7 linked regions of the Homo sapiens genome follow. The protein of the gene in region 1 interacts with the protein of each later gene in a biochemical or structural test. Each region holds a gene or a part of one and is shown in the gene's direction. Other genes may lie near its edges.

Region 1 (3,416 bases):
AAAGGAAGATAACATCCAGTAACCACAGGAATATATTCTCTGTGAATTAAAAGTCTTCAAAGTTATCATTTCTCTGACATATGTTGGAGTAGTCATTTCCATTCTTTACATTGTCATGAACTGGATTGATAACCCTCATCTGCAATATTTTCACCCCTAAAATTTTTAACAGGGTTTCCTTTTTTTCTCACGACTATTTAAGTTTAGATTGCTCCATTATTAACTGATTAATGCACTTTGAAGTTCTCTGGAATTAATTATTTTAACTTGGCCTAGCTTCGACTGTCAAGGTGGCTGTTATAAATTTGACTTCATTGGCAGTGGATGAAGCCTAAGCCAGCTGAGTCTCTATCATAGCTGAACCCTGAGGACAGCCTCATAGCTCATGTATCAGGGACTTTTGCCACATTTCAGAGGCATAGCATGAACAAGTAATATTAAGCCAAGAATAAGCAGCAGAACCCTGTTCCATATGGAAAAAAGAAAAACAATTTTTTGTCCCTAATGTTCTTCCTTTTACATCCTGGAACAACAATAAAAACATTTTTTTAAACTTGTCTACTGTAAGATACTGCCATCATAAAGCAGAGACTTACATGAGTGAAAGGGTTGCCTCATCAAGCAGCTCAGTGTAAATGGGGAGGCTAGGCTCTCCCCAGCCCTATGGTTTTTTTATTTCATGTACCCCAGGAAATACTGTGTGGTTTCTAAAAGCCCTGGTTGTTAAAAGTAGGGACTCTGCCTTTTTGTTGGTAGGGAGAAAAAACGCTATTGCTTTGTCTTACAGAGCGAATGTCTGCCAACTACCCGTTCATTATATAAGTCTGAACTTGGTAATATATGGCTAATGAAGATTAAGCCCTCTATAAAGACTTCCTGTTGAGGTGAATTCTCATACTGAAATGTAGTTACCTACAATATTTACTAGAGATTTATGAAATTAAATTAAGAGATAATGTAAGAAAATACATTTTTTTGGTTCTATATAATGCTTCATGATTCATTTAGGGACCTAGAAATATTGTGTGAAAATATATAAATATCACCCAAAAGGCTTTCTGCCCTATATTTTTAAAATACAGAATAGTTATATTTGAAGTAGCCCTGGCCCTAGTTCTATAGGGCTTGGCTATTTAATATTTTTATGGAAGAAGTGTTTAGTTCTGGAAAAGGTAAATGCTTGTATATATTTTTGCAGCCTGGGATCTCCCTACTCCATTTTTTCCTTTAATTTAAGTGGCCACATGTATATGTCTTCCCTGCTGTGTTAGGAAAATGGGGGCTGGATATCCCAAGAATCAGAGGTTATATAAAAATACTGCAAATAGACCGCAGACATAAATATCTACCAAATGCTATCTTAAATTTTGGTCCAAACTGAACATATGGAAATAGATTTATTGTAAGTATTTACTTAGAGCTTTTTCTTAAATCTGAACTAACTTGCTTTTAGAAGTCTTTTTCTTTGTAAGCATTGTAAATGCTAATAAATCCTGTTAATTTTTTTTTTTTTTTTTTTTTTTTTTTACTGCATGTTACATTGAAATAAAAACAAAGTAAAATGAGCAATTGCCTTATTGTTCTGCTCTTTTGCAGGGGGTGGGGGTTGGGGAAGACAGCATTCCACAGCCTGGTCAGGAGGGAAGGACCTCACTTGTTTCATCAAATGGAGTGGTTTAAAACTGATCAAGCAGCTCATAATAATGAATTCCTGCTCTGTCTTTTATTATCTTATGTCAGAGTGCAGCAAAATCTCATTTCATAAGACTTACAATAACTCTATTTAAAATTCAGGTATTGTACTCGGGAGGCTGAGGTGGGAGGATCCCAGGAGTTCAAATCCTGCCTGGGCAACATAGCAAGACCCTGTCTCTTAAAAAAACAAAAAGACATATTCAGGTACTGATTTTTCATCAAGAGATTGACATACCAATGATCAGAAATTTTAGTGAAACTTGACTCAACTATACACAAAGTTCTCATCCTAAATGAACTATTTCAGTCAAGCCCACTCTACCACTTTTTACTTATCTGGTTAATAATCCGAAATGTTACCGGGGTTGACTCACGGAATTAAATTTTTCCTCTATTTTTATATCCTTTCCTGTTGTGGATGTAACTTACCTTTCTAAACTCCTTTAGAGTTAACGACTTCTATTTAGTATTGTTGGTATCTCCAGCCCCCCTCCTTTTTTTGTTTTTCTTTTAGTTATTTACTTTGTTTGTATAATTTGCTTTCATTAACTAAAAATGGAATTGGCAGCACTGGATTGTATATTACTGTATTAAGAGTACCTTTGTTTTCTTGATCTGTTACTTTTAATACTCAGGTAATGCTACAAATATTACAGGGAGTCAAATGCTTTTATAAAGTTCCTTCAGTGGTTGCCTCACTTGCGTTTTCCTACAAGATGTAAGACTGTTTATAATTAAACTTTTTTGGTCCTTCATTTGCATGCTTTTCTATCAGTCTTGGGTAAGGAGGGGTCTCTTTCCTCTCTCCCCGGCCCCACCTTCTGAGACTTATATGTGACCAGGTCACATAGATTTCTGCCTCTCTGCTTTTTTAAGTGGCAAGTTACAGCCCATCTGGATTGTGGTATTGTTCCCAGACCAAATCAAGGGTTGGACTGCTTATTCTCGCAGCCCAATAATGAGGTGCAGATGAACTGAGAAAGGAGGGAGTTTATTTCTGTAACCAGGTATGGGGAGAAAGCCTGGAAATGATCCCAAGACCAACTCAAAACTACAAAGTTTTCCAGAGCTTATTTACATTATAAGCTATATGTCTACATGTGAGTGTACATTCATCTAAAGACATAAGTGATTCACTTTTTTAAATCTATAAATAAGATCTGAGCCCTGAAGACCTTCCTCTGGAGCCTCAGTAAATTTACTTAATCTAAATGGGTCCAGGTGCTGGGGTGATTACCCTTATCTTGTTTCCTGCTAAATCATGGAGGTTTGGGGACTTCCTTCAGACCCCCAGTAAACTTGTTTGTGGAGGCCTTCAGACCCCCTCAATAAGTTCCTTCAGACCCCCAATAAAACTTGTTTAATCCTAAATGGGTTCCTTTGTTATCTTGTCATGCTTCAAGGCCCAGAAAAGGCCTGGGCAAAACCCTTGGTGGCCTTTTGTTACATTCTAGCCTTTGCATAAGGGCCCTCACTCTTTCAGCTTTTAATATTTAACTTAACCACTCAGTGCTGAAACAGTTGTTATGGAGGCCTGCGTTATTGAGATCTGGCCTGCCACGGTACGGGTAGAAAAAAACTAGAAAGAGCTGTTGCAGATGAGACTGGATTTGGTGCCCATGTTGAAGATGAAGATATCTGCAGGGGCCATCAACCAACATAAAGGCCTCCATATGAATTGCTTTTCTGAGACAACTAAAAGACCGGGACCACAGGCATGA
Region 2 (3,915 bases), on another chromosome or scaffold:
AGGTGTGCGCCACCAAGCCTGGCTAAGTTTTGTATTTTTAGCAGAGATGGGGTTTCACCATGTTGCCCAGGCTGGTCTTGAACTCCTGAGCTCAGGCAATCCGCCTGCCTTGGTCTCCCAAAGTGCTTGGGATTACAGGTGTGAGCCACCATGCCTGGCCTCTATCCACTTACTTTTAATGTACATGTATGTGTCTTTATATTTAAAGAGGGTTTCTTGTAGAGAACACATAGTTGGGTCTTGTTTGTTGATCCACTCTGACAATCTGTCTTTTAATTGGTGCATTTAGACCATTGATATTCAAAGTAGTTATTGATATAGTTGGATTGATATCTACCATATTGTTACTGTTTTCTACCTGTTGCCTCTGTTCTTTGTTTCTATTTTTGTCTTTACTCTTTTTCTGCCTTTTGTGATTTTCACTGGACATTTTATATGATTCCATTTTCTCTCCTTTCTTGGCATATCAGTTATACTTTTTTCTTTTTGAGACAGAATCTCACTCACTCTGTCGCCCAGGCTGGAGTGCAGTGGCACGATCTCAGCTCACTGCCACCTCTGCCTCCCAGGTTCAAGTGATTCTCCTGTCTCAGCCTCCTGAGTAGCTGAGATTAAAGGTGCATACTACTATGCTCATCTAATTTTTGTATTTTTAGTAGAGACGGGGTTTCATCATGTTGGCCAGGCTGGAACTCGACCTCAAGTGATCCACCCACTTGGCCTCCCAAAGTGCTAGGATTACAGGCGTGAGCCACCGCGCCCAGTCCAGTTACACTTCTTTTTTTTTTTTTTTGAGACGGAGTCTCACTCCGTTGCCCAGGCTGGAGTGCAGTGGTATGATCTGGGCTCACTGCAAGCTCTGCCTCCTGGGTTCATGCCATTCTCCTGACTCAGCCTCCCAAGTAGCTGGGACTACAGGTGCCCGCTACCATGCCTGGCTAATTTTTTGTATTTATAGTAGAGATGTCATTTCACTGTGTTAGCCAGGATGGTCTCAATCTCCTGACCTCGTGATCCACACGCCTTGACCTCCCAAAGTGCTGCGATTACAGGTGTGAGCCACCGTGCCCGGCCTTATACTTCTTTTTTACTTTTTTTCAGTGGTTTCCCTAGAGTTTGCAACATACATTTACAACTAATTCAAATCCACTTTCAAATAACACTATACCATTTCATAGGCATTATGAGTATCTTAAAATAATCCTAATTCCTTCCTCCTGTAAACTAAAAACAAAATCCTAAATCCTCCAAACAACTGAATGGACCCCCTCTTCACCAAGGGGACCCCAGGGAAACCTGAAAAACTGAGTGTTGGCCATGACGGGAAGGGAGGTGAGAGATGCCTCATTATACTCCCTCCCTTTTAGAGTTTTAGGTACAACTGACCAGCATTAATTTTAAAATAGAGATTACAGGACTGACAGAATGAACTCTTTGTGGCAATATCAAATTAGGAACAAGACAATGCAAGGAAAGGGTTAAATCATGCCCTTCAAACCATAAAAAAATTTTTTTTTAATTAACCCCATATAATGTGGTATACTTTCCAAACTGACTCTGGTATAGCATCACATGACAGATTGCAGACTCCCTTACCTTAAGCATTCCTTTATACTGACTTCAAGTCTTAAGACAGAGCTGAACTCTTTCAACCAGCTGCTAACTAAAGAATACCTAAAACCCACCTGTGACTTGTAAGTCTCTGCTTTGCCATGTCCTGCCTTTTCAGGCTGACCCAATGTATACCTTCCGTGTATTGATTTATGATTTTTACCTACAATTCCTGTCTTCCTGAAACATATAAAACCAAATCATAACCCAACCACCTCAGGCACACTTTCTCAGGACCTCTTGAGACTATTCTCCCGGCCATGGTCATTCATATCGGCACAGAATAAACCTCTTTAAAATATTTTGCAGTTTTTTTCTTTCTGTTAACATTCCTTTCCCTTGTATCATTGCTGTTATTAATTTCAAGTATATATAAGCATACCTAATTAAATACATTGTTGCTATTATTCATTTTTGAACAAACTATTATCTGTTAAATCAACTAAGAATAAGACAAATATGTTGGGTGCAGTGGTGCATGCCTATAGTCTCAGCTACTCAGAGGCTGAGGCAGGAGGATTGCTTGAGCTCAGGAGTTTAAGACCAGCCTAGGCAACTTAGCAAGATCATGTCTCTTAAAAAAAAAAAAAGAAAGAAAGAAAAACAAAGTTTTAGGAGGCTGAGGCAGGAGTATCACTTGAACCCAGGACGCAGAGGTTGCAGTGAGCCGAGATCGTGCCATTATACTCCAGCCTGGGCAACAGAGTGAGACTCTGTCTCAAAAAAAAAAAAAGAAAAGAAAAGAAAAGAAAAAAAAAGTTTTTATTTTACCTTCACTTATTCCTTCTTGGATGTTCTTCCTTTATGTAGGTACAAGGTTCTGACCTATGTTATTTTCTTTTTCTCTAAAGAACTTCAAAAGTTTCCTGCAAGGCAGGTCTACTGGCAATGAATTCCCTCAATTTTTGCTTGACAAAGTCTTTATTTCTGCTTCACTATTGATGGATAATTTCACAAGAGTGTTCCTTTTGTAGATTCACTCTTCTTATCCTTCCCTTCAGAAATATTCTTTGACCAACTATTGGGTCCCAGGTACTGCACTAGAGCTTTACTTCTAGTTAATTCCCACAGCAATTCTGAGAGGTAGGTAGGTATTATATTCCTAGATGCAAACTCAGAATTCAGAAGGTAAAGTGATGAGACTGAAGGCACACAGCAAGTAAGTGGCAGAACCTAGATTAAAACTCATTCTTAAAACTTTGGCTTCCTTCTCTTTTCTTTAATGGATTCAGTTACTTCTTCTCACCCACTCACCTTTATCAATTTACATTTCAGGATAAAAGTCTTCATGTTGGCACTCAATGTGCCTTAACAAGAAGATGCCCACAAGAAGGGTTTGATCATCGGGACAGCAAAGTGTCTCTTCAAGAGAAAAACTGTGAACCTGTGGTAGGTTAAGATCCTTCATAAGGGTATTTTCATGAATGGCTGTTTTTAACTCAAGTGAATACAATTATTTCCATTTAAAAAGCAAGGACAATGTGAATGTACTCATTGCCACTGAACTATATACACCTAAAAATGGTTAAAATGGCAACTTTTATGTGTATTTTATGAGAATAAAAAATAAATAATAATAAAAAACAAGGGAAGTACAGATATTTTCTTAATTGTGTTGTCACATACCCAGTGTTTCCAGGGTCAATAATGAGAGCCCTACATGTAAGATTCAAAGGAAGAATTTAGTCCTGGATACAATATTCTTTTATGTTTTTAGTTATATTTGCCTTTTTAATGGATGCAGATATATACAGAGGGAAGGGATAAAGTACCTATTATTTATTGTATAGAGCTGTGCTGTCTGATGGCTTAGCCACTAGTCACATGGTGCTATTGAACACTTAAAACACAGGAGTTTGAAATAAGATGTATTATAATACATATCATATTTCAAAAATATTAGTATGTAGAAAAGAAGATAAATGGTTCATTAATGATTTTTATATTGATTCACCTTGAAATAAATATTCTGAAAATATTAGGTTAAACAAAATATTTTAAGATTAATTTTACATGTTTCTTCTTTTAAATGTAGCTACTAGAAATTTTAAAATTACATATGGCTGGGCATGGTGGCTCACACCTGTAATCCCAGCACTTCGGGAGGCCGAGGTGGGTGGATCACCTGATCTCAGGAGCTCGAGACCAGCCTGGCAAACATGGTGAAATCCTATCTTTACTAAAAATACAAAAATTAGCCAAGCGTGGTGGTGCATGCCTGTAATCCCAGCTACTTGGGACGCTGAGGCAGGAGAATCACTTGAACCCGGGAGGTGGAGGTTGCAGTGAGCCGAGATAGTGCCA
Region 3 (3,915 bases), on another chromosome or scaffold:
TGACTTCTATTTGATCTGGTTAATCAAATTGAGCTAGTTTTCTCACCAAGTAAATGTAATGGAAAACTGTATGATTCATTCATAAATGCAAACACAGTTTTGTCTTTATGGTCTTTTTATTGGTAGTGTAATATGTGGACAACTTGAATTTAGCATAGTGACAGACTATGCAGAAAGGGTAGGCTCAACCAGGTGTGGTGGCTCACACCTGTAATCACAGCACTTTGGGAGGCCGAGGTGGGCGGATCACTTGAGGTCAGGAGTTCGAGACCAGCCTGGCCAACATGGCAAAACCTTGCCTCTACTAAAAATACAAAAATTAGCCAGGTGTGGTGGCACTCACCTGTAATCCCAGCTACTTGGGAGGCTGAGGCAGGAGAATTGCTTGAACCTGGGAGGCAGAAGTTGCAGTGAGCCAAGATTGTGCCACTGAACCCCAGCCTGGGTGACAGAGTGGGACTGTCTCAAAAAAAACCAAAACAAAACAAAACAAAAAATGGCCAGGCAAGGTGGCTCATGCCTGTAATCCCAGCACTTTGGGAGGCCAAGGCAGGCAGATCACAAAGATCACGAGGTCAAGAGATTGAGACCATCCTGGCCAACATGTGAAACCCCATCTCTATTAAAAATACAAAAATTAGCTGGGCGTGGTGGCGTGCACCTGTAGTCCCAGCTACTCAGGAGGCTGAGGCAGGAGAATCGCTTGAACCTGGGAGGCAGATGTTTCAGTGAACTGAGATCGTGCCACTGCACTCCTGCCTGGCGACAGAGCAAGACTCTGTTTAAAAAAAAAAGCACGGTGTGGTGGTGCACATCTGTAACTCCAGCTACTTGGGAGGCTGAGGCAGGAAAATCACTTGAACCCAGGAGGCAGAGTTTGCAGTAGGCTGGGATCGCGCCACTGTACTCCAGGTTGGGTGAGCAAGACTGTCTTAAAAAAAAAAAAAAAAAAAGGCACCGAGGTGGGCGGATCACAAGGTCAGGAGATCGAGACCATCCTGGCTAACATGGTGAAACCCCATCTCTACTAAAAATACAAAAAATTAGTTGGGCGTGGTGGCACGTGCCTGTAGTAGTCCCAGCTACTCGGGAGGCTGAGGCAGGAGAAACCCGGGAGGTGAAGATTGCAGTGAGCCGAGATCGCGCCACTGCACTCCAGGCTGGGCGACGAAGTGAGACTCTGTCCAAAAAAAAAAAAAAGAGGCTAGGCTTATAGGTTCCCCTGGCATTATTTTATTTTTTTTTTCATTTTTGCCTTTTGAAACTGAGACTGTCTCAGACAGTATGGAAGCACTATTTTAGAAAGACCTAAGTAGGCCCATACTGAGTGCTGAGAAACCTGTTGCGTGTTTCTCTCTCTGAGGACGTTAACTCCCGTTCATCCATAGATGAACGCAGATCTTCTGCGGTAGATGTGTGCATGAATTTTGCCAATTCATTTCAAGTATTTTGGGATACTTGGATTTGAATTCAATGTAAGTGGGTGATGATGACACTGCCATGTAGGTTCAAACAGATTACAGAATGTTTAGTTCTGGACTTGCCTCATTACCTGCTAAAGAAGTTGCCCACTTGTGAGCATCACCAATACTCTGTATGATAGTTTGATGACATTATAGTGCAGATTTTGGAATGGTATACTTTTGGATAAATTCTCTCAGGATTATGGAGGAATATTTTGATGAGCATAAGAATTTCATCTCTGATAGGTCAAACCATATTCATGTTAAATTATTAGATGAAGTAATGATCCTGGAGGAAGGAATGAATAGTGCTTATGTGGCTTTTTTGCTTATTTTTCAGTTTCAAAAGAAGTTATATCACAGAATGCCAACATAACCTAAATGTCAAAGTTTCTTAAGTTATATGCTGTATTTGTGGCCTACATGGTCAGTGATCAAAGAAAATTTATAAAAATATTAGGAAGATGGGTAAATTATTCCTTTGAAAACTTTAATTGTGGTAAAATACACATAAAATTTACCATGTTAACCACTTTTAAGTATACAGTTTAGTGGCATTAAGTACATTCACATTGTTGTGGAACCAGTCCATCTCCAGAACTTTGTCACCTTGCAGAACTGAAACTCCATATCCATTAAACAATAACTCTCCATTCCCCCTCCTCCAGCCCCTGGAAGCCACCATTCTACTTTCTATGTATTTGACTACCGTAGGTACCTCTCATAAGTGGAATTAGACAGGATTTGTCCTTTTGTGACTGGCATATGTCACTTAGCATAATGTCTTCAGAGTTCATCCATGTTGTAGCATGTGTCAGAATTTCCTGCCTCTTTAAGGCTGAATAATAGTCCATTTTATATATGTACCACATTTTGTTTATGCATTCATTTGTTGACGGATGCTTGGTTTGCTTCTACCTTTTGGTCATTGTGAGTAATGCTGCTATAAAAAACATGAGTCTACAAATATCTTTCAAGTCCCTGCTTTCAGTTCTTTTGGATATACCCAGAAATGGAATTGCTGGGTCATACGGCAATTCTATTTTTAAGTTTTCGAGAAACTCCCATACTGTTTTCCATGGCAGCTTCACCATTTTATTTTCCCACCAACAATGCATAAGGATTCCAATTTCTCCATATCCTCAACATACTTGTTATGTTCTCTTTTTTGTTTTTGTTTTTTTGATAGTAGCCATCTAATGGGTGTGAAGTGGTATCTCATTGCAGTATTGATCCCTATTTCCCTAATAATTAGCGATGTTGAGCATCTTTTCATGTGCTTATTGGCCATTGATATTTTCTTTAGAGAAAATGTGTATTCATGTTCTTTGTTCATTTTTGAATTGAGTTTTTTGTTGTCGAGTTGTAGGAGTAATTTCTTCATGATGTTTACATTTTCAACTTTTTACTATGGAAATTTCAAACACATACAATAATAAAGTAGTGTAAGAAATTTTATGTACCATCACCCAGCTTCAGCAATTGTGAATGAATGGCCAATATTATTTCACTTATACTCACCACATTATTTTGAAACGAATCCTAGAAATCATATATTGATAAATATTTCTATGTGTAACGCTAAAAGAAAACAAATGGTATGATATTTCAAGAAGATATCACATGAGGAATATATCATGAGAGCTCTCTTGTAATCTGTGAGGAGTATGGAAACAGGATTTGTCAGTGTCGGGCTGTGGATCCATAACTAACTGTCCTTTGTATTGATTGGGCTCACTCTTGCCAAGCCTCATGCTTTGTTTTTGTAGCAGTGATAGATTCCTGTTAATCTATCCTTGTTTTCTTACCTGATCCCATGGGTGACCACTTGTTAGGCAAGATTTATTTGGCTTAATCATACTATCTGTGTCCTGAAAATAGGGCAGTGCTTCCTGGTTTGGGCAGAAACCAAGGCCCAGTTGAACTGCTCTAGGGAATTTTGCTCTAAGCTGATGCCACCAGTAGTTTAACTGCACATAACTTCAAATTGTTTTATCCTAGACATTAATTATATTTCATAATTTTATGGTAGATTATAAAGTAAATCCTACCATGAGAATAACTTCATATTTTTATTAAGAAAGAAAAAAAGTCTCCAAGAGATTCAAGTGACATCCTCAGATTTATTTGTTTTTAGGGCTTTAAAATAATTATTTTGGTTTCTTAAAATGTTCTTGTTTTACCTTTAAGCAAGTACAACAGCTTAGAAGAATTATATTCTTTTTTGTTTGTTTGTTTTGAGATGGAGTGTCTTTCTTCTTGCTCAGGCTGGAAGGCAATGGCGCGATCTCGGCTCACTGCAACCTCCGCCTCCCAGGTTCAAGCGATTCTCCTGCCTCAGCCTCCTGAGTAGCTGGGATTACAGGTGCCCACCACCACGCCCAGCTAATTTTTTGTATTTTTCGTAGAGATGGGGTTTCACCATGTTGGCCAGGCTGGTCTTGAACTCCTG
Region 4 (3,915 bases), on another chromosome or scaffold:
GAAGATACATATAAGGATAAATTAAATCTGTTCTGAAGCACTTCTGGAGTTATGGATGGAAAACATTCTTTGACAGGATTTAGGACGATATTGTTTTTTGGATTTAATGTCTTCACTGAGTTGCTTCTGACCTCTGAAGCCAAAAAAAAGGCAGTAGATGATTTTACCTTCTCAGCCTCTTTAGTCACCTTCCTTTGTAGGGTGTCTGATAACTTCTGAAGGATGAACTGGTCCTGTGGGTTTGTGTAAAGCCTGGGCAGTAACATCAGTTCTGTTTTGCTTCATAGGAATACCTCCACGGGCCCATTCCCGAGATTCTAGTGATTCTGCTGATGGACGGGCCACACCCTCTGAGAACCTTGTACCCTCATCTGCTCGTGTGGATAAGCCCCCCAGTGTGCTGCCCTACTTCAATCGTCCTCCTTCGGCCCTTCCCCTGATGGGTCTGCCCCCACCACCAATTCCACCCCCACCACCTCTCTCCTCAAGCTTTGGGGTCCCTCCTCCTCCTCCTGGTATCCACTACCAGCATCTCATGCCCCCACCTCCTCGATTACCTCCTCATCTTGCTGTACCTCCCCCTGGGGCCATCCCACCTGCCCTTCACCTCAATCCAGCCTTCTTCCCCCCACCAAACGCTACAGTGGGGCCTCCACCAGATACTTACATGAAGGCCTCTGCCCCCTATAACCACCATGGCAGGTAAGGACTATTGTTCCTTTCAGATTTGAGCCAGGGTAAATAAGTGTATTAAGCATTTTATTCTCCCTGAGAAAGTGAGCACTGAATCCTTGTTCTTTCCCTTATAGACATTCTGTTATCATAGCATTGACTCCTGGGAAGTAGTACCATGTCCTTTATACCCCTTTTTAAGGTGCTTAATTAAATGCGGGAGCAGGTGTTATGAATGCTACAGATGTCTAGCATTGTTCTGTGTTATGCCAAAATTACCAAAGTGTTGTAGAGTACAGTAAAAATAATAAGGGATGTGAGCAATCAAGGATGGTATTTTCTCTGTACAGCCGAGATTCGGGCCCTCCACCCTCTACAGTGAGTGAAGCCGAATTTGAAGATATCATGAAGCGAAACAGAGCAATTTCCAGCAGTGCCATTTCCAAAGCAGTATCTGGAGCCAGTGCAGGTAACTCAGTGCTTACCTTTGCTGCCTTCTCCTTAACCTTTACTTTTTTTTCCTGATTTTGTCATTTCTACTGGCAAAAGTTCAACAAGATAAAGTTGGAGTACTGTAGATATCAAGAGCGGCATACTTTGAAGAGCAATATGTAACCTGATTTCTTGGCCTTGGGGAAGCTCCGGCAGTATTACTTAGTCTGTATCTAGGCCTGCCCTCATGAAAACCAACTTAATGCCTAGAATATAAATAATTAATACCATCTCGATGTGGTGTTTGCTGTAGAGTGAAATTCCTGCCTTGTGGAAATCTCCATCTCAGTGGTTGATCTTTAGATCTAGTGTCTGTGTAGTAGACCCAATACCAGATATAGACCCTGGGTCTTCTTTAGGAATGATGTTTTGACTGGATAATGTGTTTTTTTGTTTGTTTGTTTTGAGAGGGAGTCTTGCCCTGTCGCCCAGGCTGGAGTGCAGTGGTGCAATCTTGGCTCACTACAGCCTCCACCTCCTGGTTTCAAGCGATTCTCCTGCCTCAGCCTCCCAAGTAGCTGGGATTACAGGCACTTGCCACCACGCCCGGCTAATTTTTGTATTTTTTTGTAGAGACAGGGTTTCATCATATTGGCCAGGATGGTCTTGAACTCCTGACCACAAGTGATCCGCCTGTCTCGGCCTCCCAAAGTGCTAGGATTACAGGTGTGAGCCACCACGTCCAGCCTAGATAATGGTTTGCTATGAAATCTGATTACATTTAGGAGTCTAAGCAGAGCTGGTAGGTAGCCTATCCTAAAAAGAGGCAAGTCTGTAGATGTCATCTTAAGGCATGTTATGCCCTTACAGCTAACTTTTGCCCTGCTCTCATTATTAAGTGGGTAGAACCAGCAGCCATGATTCTGAAAGCCCTGAGCATAAGATCTTTAGTTTCTAAAAGAAGAGGCTACAGGAAGTTTCAGAGTTCTGGTCCGGTTTTCACATCGTGACATTAGCCATATTCACTTCCTTCCTGTGAGTTTCCTACATGAATGTAAATGTCTGTAGATTATCAGATCTCCTAAGAAATAAGTTAGCCCTAAATATTATCATCTGCTTTCCATCAGTTTTCATCTTTGCATCATCTTGCCAAACTTGAATCCACAGAGAAGGTTAAAGACAGAAAGTACATATGTTCCCTTCATTTTTTTCCCACCAGAAAAATCTACATTGACATCTAAATTAGTCTTTTTTAGGCCAGGTGCAGTGGCTCATGCCTGTAGTCCCAGCACTTTGGGAGGCCAAGGCCGGTAAATCACTTGAGGTCAGGAGTTTGAGACCAGCATGGCAAAACCCCATCTCTACTAATAATACAAAAATAAGCCAGGCATGGTGGCACATGCCTATAGACCCAGCTACTTGGGAGGCTGAGGCACGAGAATTGAGAATTGCTTGAACCCAGGGCGTGGAGGTTGTGGTGAGCCGAGATTGTGCCACTGCACTCCAGCCTGGGTAACAGAGTGAAACTGTGTCTCAAAAAAAAAAAAAAAAAAATTAGTCTTTTTAAATTAAAAAGTAATATATACCCATGGGTTATATGGGTTAAATACACAGAACAGTATAAAGAAAGTACTCATTGTTCCTTCTTCCTCATCAACCCTTTCACACTAAGATGATCAATAACTGAATCTTGATCTCCTGTTGTTCTCATTCCAGTCATTCAAACCACAAATACTTATTGAAGATACTACAAAAACAGGCAAAAATTCCCTGCCAGGATGGAGCTGATGTCTTCATATTCTTGTGCCTCCACTGGACAGTTTCTCCATAGTTTCTGTTCTTGTTGCCTTGCACAGAGGAAGCTGCCAGGCTTCATTTTCACTGGACCCCTGCCTGAATTCATATTTTCTTTGTATTAACTTTTGTCCTTAATGCTCTTGACTTAGCTTGGAAAAGCAAAGTGTAGGTACCCGCCCCATGACCACTATCCCTGAGCCAGGCATTACTCAGAGTTGGGAAATGAAAGGCCTAGTTTTTTATGACAGCATAAATTTTTTTTTTTTTTTTTTGAGACGAAGTCTGGCTCTATTGCCCAAGCTGGAGTAGTGCAGTGGTCTGATCCCGACTCACTGCAACCTCTCCCTCCCAGATTTAAGCAATTCTCCTGCCTCAGCCCCCCAAATAACTGGCATTACAGGTGCATGCCACACTGCCTAGCTAGTTTTTGTATTTTTAGTAGAGACCGGGTTTCACCATTTTGGCCAGGCTGGTCTCGAACTCTGGCTTCAAGTGATCCGCCCACCTCGGCCTCCCAAAGTGCTGGGATTACAAGTGTGAGCCACTGCATCCAGCCATAATTTTTTTAATGTATACATATACTACGCATACATGTTTTATGTAAATATCATATATATACACACATACATCTGATGGTAGGTTAAAAATAACTTGTAGAAATACACATTATTTAGAAAGTCTCATGAGGTACAGTGGCTCATACCTATAATCCCAGCACTTTAGGAGGCCCAGGCAGGAGGATCACTTGAGGCCAGGAATTCAAGACCAGCCTGGTCAACATAGTGAGACCCCATCTCTACAAAAAATTTTTGAAAAATAAGCCAGGTGAAGTGGCATGCAGGAGGATGGCTTGAGCCCAGGAGTTCAAGGATGCAGTGAGCTATGATCATACCACTGCTCTTCAGCCTGGATGATAAAACAAGACCCATCTCAAAAACAAAATAGTCCTCTATACAAGGACCATCAACCAATAAGACCACCTTTTATAGTTTATATTCCTCCAGAATTTTTTCT
Region 5 (3,915 bases), on another chromosome or scaffold:
AGTTTATTTTTTTAATGATTTCAAACTTACCAAAAGTTGTAAATTCCTGTGTCCCTCCATCCAGGTTCCTCAGCTGTTAAGATTTCACTTCGTTTGCTCCATCACCTTCCCTCCCTCCTTTTCCCCGAGATCCCCCTCCGGTCTTTTTTCTTCCCAAAACATTTGACAGCAAGCTATAGATGTGATGCCCTGTCACCCACCCCGGAATACACACACCTCTTGTGTGTTTTCCAAAAATGAGGACAGCCTCCTGTGCAACCACCATATAACCCCCAGATTGGGAAATCAACGTTGATAATTACTGTCCAGTCCACAGACCACATGCAGTTGTCCCAACACTACTCTTTTCTTCTTTGCGGATCCAGGACCCAATTCAGGAACACATCTTGCATTGAGTTGTCATCTCTTCATTTTCTCTCCAATCTGGAATCGCTTCCCAGCCTTTCTTTGTCTTCCATGCCCTGAACAGTGATACATTCAGTAATTTGACCCTCAGCCTGGGTCTTCCTGGTGTTGCCTCATGCCCACGTGTTCTTGGCAGGCCCGCCGCAGAGCTCTGCCCTGGTTCATGGTACCCCATAGCCAAAGTGCTGGGGTTGTTCACTTTTACCCCTGGTCATGTTGGTGTCCACCAGGTCTCTCCACCATAAACTCACCATTTACCCCCTTTAAGTGATTGTATTTTGTGGGAACGTAGTCCCAGATTATGTCTATAACCTGTCATTTGTCAAACTGAAATCCACCAGCTTTGGCCTCCATTCACAGTTCCCCCTGCGCCAGCCATTGCTCTGATGTTGCTAAATGGTGGTTCTATGACTCCCTTGTTCCCCTCATTTCTTTTAGCTGGCATTCTGCTCTGTAGAAGAGCTTTATCTTCTGCCCTATTTATGTATTCTTTTTTTTTATCAGTATGGACTTAGAGATTTCTGTTTTATTCATTGGTTATAATTAATTACTACTATTATCTGTTCTGTTGCTTGGATGGTCCCAGATTTAGCCAGTGGGAACCCCTTCAAGCTGGCTTTCATGTCCTTCTCACATGGCCCTTTTTGTTGGTTTTTTAAGAACTTTCTTTCTTTCTGGCATGAGATGTGCCAGGCTCATCTTGTACTTTTTGTGATCCAGCCCCAGAATCAACCATTTCTCCAAGAAGCCTCATTGTTTTCAGAGAATGGTATTTTTAAAACCCAAGATCTGGATGCTAGGTGTGCTAATTGCTACTTGGCTCTTTTGGGACACACTAGGAAATACATATGTATTATATGTATACACACATCTAAATATGTCACTACCTGCTCTATGTGTATATTAAAATATATGAGTTCAGGCAGAGTTCACGGGCGCAGTGGCTCACCCCTGTAATCCCAACACTTTGAGAGGCTGAGGCAGATGGATCACTTGAGCTCAAGAGTTTAAGACCAGCTTGGGCAACATGGCGAAACCCCATCTCAACCAAAATATATGAAAAAATTGGCCAGGCACGGTGATGCATGCCTGTAGTCCCAGCTACTCAGAAGACTGAGGTGGGAGAGTCGCTTGAGCCCAAAGATGGAGGTTGCATTAAGCCAAGATCACACCATTGCACTCCAGCCTGGGCAATAGAGCAAGACCCTGTCTCTAAAAAAAATAATAATAAAGTAAAATAAAATATATGAGTTCATCCTGATAGATCCACTTCCACCTAAACACCTCAGACTCCTCTTCCTTCTTCTCCTTCCTGCTCCCTTTCTGTTAGTAAACACCTGGGCACCTTCTCCAACAATGAGGGACTTGGCTCTCGATATCCTTGATGTGTTAACGTATTTACTCAGAGCACTGTCCATGTAGCCACCCCCCAGTGGTGTGGCTGCCTCCTCTGCCTGCCACCTCCACAGCCTACTTTGCCAGGTGTCCTGTGTCCATGGATGTCCCATGTCCATGGATGCCATCAGGCCTCTCTGCCCCTGCATCACCCACCCCGTTCCCTCCAGGCAGCCCCACCACCACCACCACTTCCTCCTCACTGGGAAGAGCAGCTGGGATGCAGCCTAGAACTTGTAGGGAGGGCCTGCTGCAGCAGCTGTTTAGGGCTAGTAGCCAACCGGTCCAGTCAGTGAGCTGTCTAGATCCTCCCCCATCCTGTCTTCGGTGGGGCATAGAGGAATCTGTGCCCTGGACATGAACGTTGTCTGCTGTGTCTCACTGCCCCTGCCTCCTTGGTCTGCAGCCCTTCATGTATGGGGACTACATTGCCTATGACTGCTGGCTGGGGAAGGTCTACGACTTGAAGAACCAGATCATCCTGAAGCTATCCAACGGCGCCAGGTAGAGTCTCACCACCAGAGAGCCATCGGCTTGGGAAGGATAGCCTCTTGGAAAGAGGGGAGGAGGAGGGTGTTTCCTCCTGGGGACAGTGATGACAGGTTTGATCAAGGGCAGTGACAGATGTTGCAGGCATCCAGGGCCTAACCCTGTACCGTTCTCCTTATCTGCCGTGGCCTATTTCTGTTGCTCAGTTTCTGATCTGTCCTGGCATGGGGAGAAACGTTTTCACTGAGGATATCTGCTAGAGGCTGATGCTTTACTTGAGGCACTGTGATGGTGCTGAGCAAGCACTCCAGTGGCACTTGGGGTCTTGTTCGTTGTGGGAGAGTTTCTTGTACTACCTCGGGCTGAGTTGATGGTAGAAGACGAATTGTGCTATTTAGGGCATGTGGGCGCATTGGCATCTCAGAATCGCAACTTTTTGGTACTCACTGTGTCCCCTGGTGGAGACCAAACCTCTGTTCTCTGTTTTAGGTGCTCCATGAACACGGAAGATGGCGCCAAGCTCTACGACGTCTGCCCGCACGTCAGCGACTCGGTAGTGTGCTCCATCCAGGCCAGCACCCTTCTCTGATTGCTCAGTCCTCTGGAAGGAGGACTTCGTAGCAAAGACCTGGACCCAGCTAAACAGAGCGGTTTCCTAGAAAAGGGGCGGGTGCGCGCCAGAGGGTCTAAAAGTTTGGGTATAGGCAGAAAGTATTAGAACTTTTTTTTTTTTTTTTTTTTTTGAGACAGAGTCTCACTGTCGCCCAGGCTGGAGTGCAACGGTGCGATCTCGGCTCACTGCAACCTCCACCTCCCGGGTTCAAGTGATTCTTTGGCCTCAGCCTCCCGAGTAGCTGGGATTACAGGCGTGTGCCACCACACCCGTCTAATTTTTGTATTTTTAGTGGAGATGAGGTTTCACCATGTTGGCCAGGCTGGTCTCGAACTCTTGACCTCGGGTGATCTGCCCACAGCCTCCCAAAGTGCTGGGATTACAGGCGTGAGCCACCGCGCCCGGCAGTATTAGAACTTTTATTTGCATTTTTGGTAGCTTTTTTTTCTCATCCTTTAAGGTTCCACTTTGTCTCTCTCAGTACAGGATGATGTGTTAGTTACAATAGTACATGGACACACACAGCAAACAAGTAGATATACAGGGGGTGCGTGAGCAAACAGGTTTCAGGACCACTGCTCTCTGGAGTCTTATTCCTCAGAGTATGAGCCCTTGACCAAGGAGCATGGAATGCATCACCTATGTTTGAACAAGGGCGCCAGATGACCTCTGCGGACCCAGGGTTTGGGAAGTGCTGATGTGGAGCCACAGGACTTGTTTTAGGGCGTGTGGGGCGTGTGTGTGAGTGGGCTTCTGCAGGTGGGCAGCCAGCGGGCACAGGCGTGGAGAGCATGGTCACCCATGGAGACACCGCTCACGGGGACTTTCCTTTGGCCCCACATCCCGCAGGGTCTCTTCTTCGATGATTCCTATGGCTTCTACCCAGGCCAGGTGCTCATTGGCCCTGCCAAGATCTTCTCCAGCGTCCAGTGGCTGTCAGGTGTCAAGCCCGTGCTCAGCACCAAGAGCAAGTTCCGAGTGGTGGTGGAAGAGGTGGGTCCGGGCCCAAGGGT
Region 6 (4,367 bases), on another chromosome or scaffold:
TCTGAACGATTAAGGAAAACTTTGGGACTCTTCATTTCCTTGAAAGCCTTTGAAAACCAACTGACTCCCAAACAACCCGTGTGTGTGTGTGTGTGTGTGTGTGTGTGTGTGTGTGTGTGGCGATTGGGAAATCTGTGGTCAGACCCTCGGGCGAATGAGGAGAAGCTCATCCTCGTTTCTCCGGGCCCTCCTCCCAGGCGTCCGTCCAGGCAGGAAAGCCTCCCGAGAAGGGTTCCAAGTTTTGTGCCAACTCCCCTGAATTCTCGTTCCCCCTTCTGTGAAGTAGTGTTATTTAACACAAGGAAAACTGACCCTAGGCTCGATCCAGAATCTAACTCCCAAATGGGTCCTCAGGCTTAAAAAATACCTTCGCCCACAGCCTCTGTCTCCCCTGAAGAAAACGTTTTCCGTTCGGATGAGGCATCGGCCACGGGCAAGCAAGTGGTCCCGCGCCCCCGTCCCCTACCCAGGCGGCCGGCCTGGCTCCGTCACCGCCCGCAGCGTCCGCCCGGGGCCCGCGCGGGAAGAGGGTCCCAGCCCCACATGCTGCGGGGGCAGCCCCGGGACGCGCAGACGCCAGCGCCGCTGAGGGCCGGGGCCGGGACCGGCCGCGCGGCGGGGGCTTCCAGAGCGGCCGGTCACGCTTCCTTAGGTTTCAAGTTTCTAACTTGCTGAACATTTCAGATTTTAACAGCAAAAGCGGCTGACGTCCCCGCGGGCAAGCGGCCTCTCGGGGTCTGCAGCGCCCCAGGGCATCCGCGCCGCCAGCCCCACGCGCGAGCCCGCGAGGCCCCCGGGCCCCCGCACGTCCCGAGGCTCTGAGTCTGGACGAACGCAGGCCGCGTGGAGGGGCCGGCGACCCCTGCCCGAGAGCCGTCCCCTCCTGGAGGGAGCGAGCACAAGGCGCCCGCGGGACCCGGCCCGAGTGCCCGAGCGTGGAGGGGCGGGCGCGCCCTCGGCGGTGGGGCCGCCCGCAGTGCCCCCAGCGCCCGGGAGGGGGCGCCCGGCGGAGCGCAGGCGGGCGGGCCTCGGGCGGCGGGCGCCCCTGACGTCACCGGCCCGCGGTCGCCAGGGCAACGGCCTCATCCCGCGCGCGTCAGAGCCGCCAGTCTCTTGGCAACCGCCCGATCTCCCGCTCTCCCTCCGCCCGGCGCTCGGCCGCGCGTCGCTCTGGCGTCAAAGCGACGTCAATGGGCGGCCCCCGCCCGGGCGGCGGGGGCGGGGCAGGGGGCGGGGACTACGGGGGGCGGGCCGGGGCGGGCCGGGGCGGGGCCGGGCGCCGCGTGCGGCGGAGCGCGGCGGCTCCGGGCTGACATGCGGCGCGGCCCCGGAGGCAGCAGCAGCGGCGGCGGCAGCCGGAGCAGTAGGCACCCGAGCAGCGCCAGCGGCCGAGCGGGCGGCTTCCTGGCCTGGGCGCTCCGGTGGCGGCGGAGGTGAGGCGGCGGCAGCGGCGGCAGCGGCGGCAGCGGCGGGCTCCGGGCGGGCGGAGGTGGCCGCCGTGGGGGCTCCGCGCGGGCGCCGGGCCGGGGCTCGGGGTTGCAGCCACCGCGCAGGGTCCCTGGCCTTGCGCGCGCGGGGTTCGCGGGCGGGGTTGGCGGCCTGGCCGCCCTCGGGCTCCCCTTTGTTGGGGGGCCGGGGTAGGAGTGAGTCCGCGGGGCTCAGGGGCTGGGGAGCCGGGGGTCAGGTTGGAGCCGACCGCGGGCGGAGATACCGGGTGTGGGGGGCGGGTCCGCGATCCCCGAGGTGCCTGGGATGTCGGGGGTGGGGACCGGACGGATCGCGGGCGGCGGGGGCAGGGTGTGGGAGCGGGGCAGGGGACGGTCCTGGGATCCGGATCGAGCCGACCTCGGGTGGCAGGGCCAGGTGTGGGAGCGGGTCCGCGCCCAGAGGTGCTAAAGGGGTCGAGGGTGGGGACGGAACCGACAGCGGGCGGCGGGAGGCGAGTGTGGAATCCCGGCTCAGGGGGTCCCGGGATCGGGACGGAACCGGACTCGGGCGGCAGGGGCCTCTATGAGAGCGGGTCCGTGCGCCCCGCGGGGCTCAAGAGGGTCGGGGGTCCGGGTGGAGCGGGCGGCGGGGGCGGGTCCACACCTCCCACGGGGCTGGAGGGGCCCGTGGATAGAGTGGGGGCGACAGGCGTGGGAGCAGGTCCCTGCGTCCCGTGGGGACTGGGGGCTCCGCGGGCACGGATGGAGCCGACCGCGGGCGGCGGGGGCGCTGGTGGGCTCTGAGCTCTGTGCGGCCCCGCAGGTGCGCGCGGAGCCATGGTTATCATGTCGGAGTTCAGCGCGGACCCCGCGGGCCAGGGTCAGGGCCAGCAGAAGCCCCTCCGGGTGGGTTTTTACGACATCGAGCGGACCCTGGGCAAAGGCAACTTCGCGGTGGTGAAGCTGGCGCGGCATCGAGTCACCAAAACGCAGGTGCGTGGGGGCGGTGGGACCCAGCCGGCGGGGCCTCCCCACTGGACCCGGGGCGACCCGACCTTTGGCGGGTGGACCCCATGCAGATTCACTGCTCCAGGCTTGATTGTCGTGGTGGGTAAATAGTAACCGTTTTTAGTTCGGTAAAGAAAAATAATGCTTTATATTATGTTGCTGCATAATTTGGACATATATTGGGAGAAAGCAGAGAGGATAATAGCAAAAAAAAGGACCAACCTAAGATTGCAGTGGTTCATGGACTCAGAGCTAAACCCTGTAAAGTGAGCCTGCAAATACTTAAGTCACTTACTTAACTCTGATTATTTTAAATAACATTAGTGGTTACTTTGGTTATGTTTTCCCAACTTCTTGTGACCTTCTGGAGACAGAGTGTTGAGAAATTAACTTGCAAAAAATGAAATGTGTAAATTAGGTTGAGGGTTTCTTTTCTTTTTTTAAAAAAACCCACAGAATATCCTTTTTCTTTTTAAATTTGTAGGTTGCAATAAAAATAATTGATAAAACACGATTAGATTCAAGCAATTTGGAGAAAATCTATCGTGAGGTTCAGCTGATGAAGCTTCTGAACCATCCACACATCATAAAGCTTTACCAGGTAAGGGGTCAGCTTGCCTTTCTCTGCTAATCCTGGCAAATGTGTTATATTTTATTTCCAACAGCATAAGTCTGCAATTTCTGAAGGTGGCTTCCCTTTTGGGGAGTGTGTGGAAGTTGGGCATTTGGTTGTATAAGGTAAATAGATTGATTTTTATAGGCTGTGCAGATATATTTACAATTATTTTATTGCTTTTGGATCATAATTGAGATTTGCTTCATTAGAATTTTATTTAGTATCCTAACCTGATCCAGTTTTAAATGTGTAGAAGTCTGTTGTAAATTTGCTTTACTATGAAAACAGACAAACTTATCTGTAGGTATTGCCACAGGTCACGCATTTAGTATAAAAGGACAAATTTGAGTGAAACTGGAAACTTCTGCCTTTGCAGATAATTATTAAACTTTAAAGCCAGCTGCTCTTACTGGTTTTCATTAGTTTATTTTTGCAAGGACAGTAGTGAGCATTTGTTTTCCCTATTTAAACTCTTCCATGAAAAACGGAGAGATGAAAATACTTTTCCATAGTAAGAGCAAGGAGCTTGTCATTTAATCCATGCTAGGAACATGGCTTGCCCTGTCTCTCTGTTGGTTTATTTTGTGACTTAATTTTTGTTCTCATGTTGAAATTAATAAATTATATCATCAGGAAATAAGTACTAATTTAATTAGAACAGCAAAGCAATCATTTACACCTCCCTAATGACAAATGACCACTTTTGCAAGGTGAAATCAAGTCTTCTTGCAGAAGAAGTTCTTTGCAGGTGCTATTTCATCCATTTGTGTTGGGTTGAAGTTCCTCGTAATGATTCTTATGAAATGGAATGTGAGATGACTCTGGGATGTTGTTGTGTGTGTTTGTGCAATTAGGACAGCTCGGTGTACAGTGTGGTAGGAGAGAGAATTATGATTCGAAATTATCCCCCAAAAGCCTCTGCACTAGATTGAAAATAAAAGTAGCAGTATTGGTGGAGCTTACGACAGTTTGCTCAGTGTCTTTAAGCACAGAATTCATGCCGTGTGCGCCTGGTTTGTGTTTTGTTTCTGTTGTCATTTTTAAGTTGTGTGCTCCATGGCCACTGGTGTACTGCCTGTGCAGCGTGCCCAGCCCATTTCCTCAGGAGTGGGCTGAGCTGGTTTTGTTTTTGACTTTGCTCAAGGGCTGAACCCTAATGGTAGTACCTTCCTTTTCTTCCTGTTCTTCTCCTTTGCCCATTGTGTGGAATTAGCTCCGTTAAAGAAACAAATTGCCCATGTGTTTGCTGCTGAGGTCTTTTCTGGAGGTGCATTTTCTTACTGCTGCTGTATGTGATTCTTAACTGTTGGGAGATG
Region 7 (4,420 bases), on another chromosome or scaffold:
CAGGCCCATTCAAGGGTTGAGCACTTGTTTAGGGTTAGAGCTGCCCCCTCTGGGGACCGGGATTGTCCAGCCAAGGCCATTGTCCTGCCCCCTTCCCCCAGTCCCTCCCAGGCTTCTTTGAACCTGAAGTCAGATATTTTTTCTCCACACCCCCCACCCCCTGGTTTTCCCCACCCAGGGCCTAGGGCTGGAGGCCTGGGCCAGGGAGGTGGGGGAGGGAGAACGGGGCCTACCGTGGTATTAGATGTCTGAGTTTTGGTTGAGAGGGGAGCAAGGAACCTGATGTGCAGGTTCCATAGTGGAGGGGGCCCAAAGCGGGTGTCTTATCACTCTGTTTCAGCAAAGGTTGGGAAACTGAGGCCCAGTCAGTCCAAAGTCTGGTCCCTTGAAGGGGAAGTAGGGACCAACCCCTTAGTCTGTTAGATGAGGAGAGTCTGGAGTCTGATTCTGGAAGACGGAGGGGTGGGGGGATGGGGGGGTGGGGGGATATAGCACGGAGGCCTTGTCTGGCAGTCTACTCTTGAAGATGGGGTGAAATTTGGCAGGCTGGGCAGATGGTGCCAGGCACCCAGGCTGCGGGGTGGCTGGATTTGGCCAGTATCGGGATGGGAATGCCTAGGATTCTGGATGGATCGGGGGAAGGCATAAGGGAGCAGCTGGCCATTGTGCTTATGGCTGTTGATGCATTGAGGGATAGCGCCACACACACATTCAATAAATTTGAGGAGCTGAGAGGGTGACTGGCCCCTGAAGGCACAGTGCCAGAGGTCTGTGGAGAGGGGGTCAAGCACCTGGGTTCCTGAAGAACATGGAGGTGTGGGAGTGATTCCAGACAGCTGGGATGTGCAGAGCCTGAGAGAGTGCCAGGGAGCGGGTTGGGAGTTGAAAGTTGGGTGTGGTGGCTCACGCCTTTAATCATGACACTGGGCGGCAGAGGCGGGAGGATTTCTTGAGGACAGGAATTCAAGACCAGCCTGGGTAACATAGCAAGGCCCCATCTCTACTAAAAATAAAAAAACTAACAGGGCACAGTGGTCCAAGCCTGTAGTCCCAGCCACTTAGGAGGCTGGAGCAGAAGGATTGCTTTGGCCCAGTAGATCGAGGCTACATTGAGCCATCATTGTACTCCACTGCACTCCAGTCTGGGCAACAAAGTGAGACCCTGTCTTAAAAAATAAAAATAAAAAAAGTTTCTGTGGGGGACCTGCACTGAGGTCCTGGAGGGGCGCCAGTTGTGTCTCCCGGTTTTCCCCTTCCACAGACACCATTGCCACCACCATTAGGCAAACATCCTTCGCCTCAGTTTCTCCCCCCACCTCCCTCTCCTCCACCCATCCAGGGGGCGGGGCCAGAGGTCAAGGCTAGTGGGTGGGACTGGGGAGGGAGAGAGGGGTTGAGTAGTCCCTTCGCAAGCCCTCATTTCACCAGGCCCCCGGCTTGGGGCGCCTTCCTTCCCCATGGCGGGACACCTGGCTTCGGATTTCGCCTTCTCGCCCCCTCCAGGTGGTGGAGGTGATGGGCCAGGGGGGCCGGAGCCGGGCTGGGTTGATCCTCGGACCTGGCTAAGCTTCCAAGGCCCTCCTGGAGGGCCAGGAATCGGGCCGGGGGTTGGGCCAGGCTCTGAGGTGTGGGGGATTCCCCCATGCCCCCCGCCGTATGAGTTCTGTGGGGGGATGGCGTACTGTGGGCCCCAGGTTGGAGTGGGGCTAGTGCCCCAAGGCGGCTTGGAGACCTCTCAGCCTGAGGGCGAAGCAGGAGTCGGGGTGGAGAGCAACTCCGATGGGGCCTCCCCGGAGCCCTGCACCGTCACCCCTGGTGCCGTGAAGCTGGAGAAGGAGAAGCTGGAGCAAAACCCGGAGGAGGCAAGTGAGCTTCGACGGGGTTGGGGTGTGGGGAGGTGGTCATGACAGGGCAGCCTGATGGGGAAGTGGTCACCTGCAGCTGCCCAGACCTGGCACCCAGGAGAGGAGCAGGCAGGGTCAGCTGCCCTGGCCAGGGAGGGGTGTGTATCAACTGCTGGCAGCCCTGGCAGGCAGGGGCCAGGTGGGAAGTGGAAGCTGGATTTCGAAGAGACAACTGCCGGTGAGGGCAGAGCAGCCTGGGAGAGTCGGAAGCTGGCCCAGGCTGGCCTTTGCTCTGGCCCAGCCCTTGTCAGGGTCTCTCACATCTCCTAGGCCTGCCCAGGGTCTGGTCACTCATTACTGGCCCAGCACCAGACCCAGCTTGGGGTTGGTTTGAGCCCCTTTTCCCACCCTTAGTCCTGCTTGAAAATTTGACCCTTATCAGACCCAAGATTTTGGCCTTAGGGTTAAGCATAGCCTGAGGGTAAAAACAGTGCTCATTCCAGGATTATTGTTCCTGAAAGTCTAGGGTGTGACTCGTTTCTGATAGGATCTCCTGTTTGGGCTGTGTGTGTGCGCGTTGTGAGCTGGGTTTACCTCCAGTCAAGTATAGGGCTTGTCTTCCCCGGATCTCTGCCTCAGGCCAATGACTGGCCACTGTGTTAAGGTGCACACCCTGGCACCCCTTGTAGAAAGCTGGATTTTGATTGACTTCAGCCTCAGTTCCAAAGTTGTAAACAAGAAAAATGGTGAGAGATTTCTCCAGGCCATTTGCAAATATAGAGCTGCTGCGGGATTGAAGGCATCCAGCCCTGCTGAGGACTATTAAAGATGTATCTTCCAGTCCTTCAAGGCGACAAGTGTAAGCAATTAGAGATTAAATACTAAGCCTTGAGACCTCACAGAAAGGTGTGACTGGTTTCTGGAGTGACCGAGAAGCCCCAACCTCTTCGCAGGAGGTCACTGCTGAGCCTTGAATGATAATGGCTGGCAATTGTGGTCCACTTCCTAAGTGCCTGGCTGTGTGCTCCGTTTATACATCATTATCTCATTAACCAGCACAAAATCTCCTAGGGGGAGGTATTATTATCCTATTTAACGGGTTTTAACTGCTAAATGATGAAGCGAGGATTTGGACCAGTGTTTATTCCAAAACCCCAAAACAGAATTTGGAAAATCCAAGATAGCAGAGGGCATTTATCAGTTTGAGTTATTGGCTGAGCAGAAGTTGGGGATGAAAACAGCCTATTTGAAATTGATATGATCAAGCACCATTGAAACACTTCCTTGAGGCTTCAGAACTACAAAAAGGCCTTGTTTTTTTCTCACTAGCTGTGCACCTCTGTCTGCCGGCAGCCTCATATGGCATGCCCCAGGGCTCAGTCCTTCAACCTCTGCTCTATCTACCCTTCCTTCCTCTCACCCACCCTCAAGGCTTAAATGCCATTTAGACACCAGATGACTACCGCGTTTTCTGTCTCTTGTGATGGCTCCCTGAACTGCTCCACCCTGATCACCCAGTTGCTCAAGGCCAAACCCAGTCATCCTCAGTTTCTTTCATGTCCTACATCCTATCCTTAAGAAACATCCTGAATCAATCACAACCTAACCCTGGCCTCAGCCACCATCATCTCTGCTGGGATTACCGCAGTAGCTTCTCAAATTATACTGCTTCCTCCCTACTGTCTGTGGCCAACACGTCAACTAGAGTCAGTGTTTTAAAAGGTGTGGCCAGGCACTTTGGGAGGCCGAGGCAGGCGAATCACCTGAGGTCGGGAGTTCGAGTCCAGCCTGACCAACATGGCGAAACCCCATCTCTACTAAAAATACAAAATTAGCTGGGCGTGGTGACGCATGCCTGTAATCTCAGCTACTCAGGAAGCTGAGGCAGGAGAATCGCTTGAACCTGGGAGATGGAGGTTGCGGTGAGCCGAGATCGCGCCAGTGCACTCCAGCCTAGGCAACAAAAGCGAAACTCTCAAAAAAAAAAAAAAAAAAGGTGAGGCTAGGTGCGGTGGTTCACACCTGTAATCCCAGCACTTTGGGAGGCCAAGGTGGACAGATCACTTGAGGTCTCCTGACCAGCCTGGCCAACATGGTGAAACCCCATATCTACTAAAAATACAAAAATTAGCCGGGCATGGTGGTGGGTGCCTGTAGTCCCAGCTACTCAGGCGGCTGAGGCAGAATAGCTTGAACCCAGAAGGCGGAGATTGCAGTGAGCCAAGATCACGCCACAGCACTCCAGCCTGGGCGATAGAACGAGATTCCGTCTTGGTGGGGAGAAAAAGGGTGAGAGATCATTTCGCTTGGACTAAAACAAAGTCACTATGTCTGCAACAGGATCTACCTAGCCACCAGACCAGCTTTGGGCTCTGGAAGGCCCACTTCAGGGCCTTGCCACATTAGACTCTTGTCCTTTGCTCAAACAATCACCTTCTCTGTCTTTAAAAGTGTCACCCTCCTCCATAATCTCCTTCCCTCCTTTACCCTACTCCTATAGACTGCTTTATTTTTTTTTTAATTTTTGAGATGGAGTCTCACTCTGTCCCTCAGGCTGGAGTGCAGTGGTGCGATCT

What was found.
Region 2: the proteins of ITCH (region 1) and MLANA form a complex in vitro, tested with the Homo sapiens proteins (2 studies listed by BioGRID and IntAct, with this or other methods).
Region 3: the proteins of ITCH (region 1) and NDFIP1 form a complex in vitro, tested with the Homo sapiens proteins (2 studies listed by BioGRID).
Region 4: the proteins of ITCH (region 1) and CPSF7 form a complex in vitro, tested with the Homo sapiens proteins (one study listed by BioGRID).
Region 5: the proteins of ITCH (region 1) and UBE2O form a complex in vitro, tested with the Homo sapiens proteins (one study listed by BioGRID).
Region 6: of the proteins of ITCH (region 1) and SIK1, one has a biochemical effect on the other in vitro, tested with the Homo sapiens proteins (one study listed by BioGRID).
Region 7: of the proteins of ITCH (region 1) and POU5F1, one has a biochemical effect on the other in vitro, tested with the Homo sapiens proteins (2 studies listed by BioGRID).

What each region holds. Positions count from the first base shown.
Region 1 is NC_000020.11:34,508,944-34,512,359, forward strand, and holds the end of ITCH (E3 ubiquitin-protein ligase Itchy homolog), read left to right. Parts: 3' UTR 1-2,830; downstream 2,831-3,416. UniProt on the Homo sapiens protein: Acts as an Acts as an E3 ubiquitin-protein ligase which accepts ubiquitin from an E2 ubiquitin-conjugating enzyme in the form of a thioester and then directly transfers the ubiquitin to targeted substrates.
Region 2 is NC_000009.12:5,903,999-5,907,913, forward strand, and holds part of MLANA (melanoma antigen recognized by T-cells 1), read left to right. Parts: intron 1-2,886; coding exon 2,887-3,000; intron 3,001-3,915. UniProt on the Homo sapiens protein: Involved in melanosome biogenesis by ensuring the stability of GPR143. Plays a vital role in the expression, stability, trafficking, and processing of melanocyte protein PMEL, which is critical to the formation of stage II melanosomes.
Region 3 is NC_000005.10:142,111,599-142,115,513, forward strand, and holds part of NDFIP1 (NEDD4 family-interacting protein 1), read left to right. Parts: intron 1-3,915. UniProt on the Homo sapiens protein: Activates HECT domain-containing E3 ubiquitin-protein ligases, including NEDD4 and ITCH, and consequently modulates the stability of their targets. As a result, controls many cellular processes.
Region 4 is NC_000011.10:61,412,892-61,416,806, reverse strand, and holds part of CPSF7 (cleavage and polyadenylation specificity factor subunit 7), read left to right. Parts: intron 1-287; coding exon 288-702; intron 703-1,022; coding exon 1,023-1,141; intron 1,142-3,915.
Region 5 is NC_000017.11:76,400,991-76,404,905, reverse strand, and holds part of UBE2O ((E3-independent) E2 ubiquitin-conjugating enzyme), read left to right. Parts: intron 1-2,206; coding exon 2,207-2,304; intron 2,305-2,778; coding exon 2,779-2,842; intron 2,843-3,751; coding exon 3,752-3,895; intron 3,896-3,915. UniProt on the Homo sapiens protein: E2/E3 hybrid ubiquitin-protein ligase that displays both E2 and E3 ligase activities and mediates monoubiquitination of target proteins. Negatively regulates TRAF6-mediated NF-kappa-B activation independently of its E2 activity.
Region 6 is NC_000021.9:43,424,076-43,428,442, reverse strand, and holds the start of SIK1 (serine/threonine-protein kinase SIK1), read left to right. Parts: upstream 1-1,311; 5' UTR 1,312-1,433; intron 1,434-2,250; 5' UTR 2,251-2,264; coding exon 2,265-2,420; intron 2,421-2,919; coding exon 2,920-3,036; intron 3,037-4,367. UniProt on the Homo sapiens protein: Serine/threonine-protein kinase involved in various processes such as cell cycle regulation, gluconeogenesis and lipogenesis regulation, muscle growth and differentiation and tumor suppression. Phosphorylates HDAC4, HDAC5, PPME1, SREBF1, CRTC1/TORC1.
Region 7 is NC_000006.12:31,167,658-31,172,077, reverse strand, and holds the start of POU5F1 (POU domain, class 5, transcription factor 1), read left to right. Parts: upstream 1-1,395; 5' UTR 1,396-1,457; coding exon 1,458-1,862; intron 1,863-4,420. UniProt on the Homo sapiens protein: Transcription factor that binds to the octamer motif (5'-ATTTGCAT-3'). Forms a trimeric complex with SOX2 or SOX15 on DNA and controls the expression of a number of genes involved in embryonic development such as YES1, FGF4, UTF1 and ZFP206.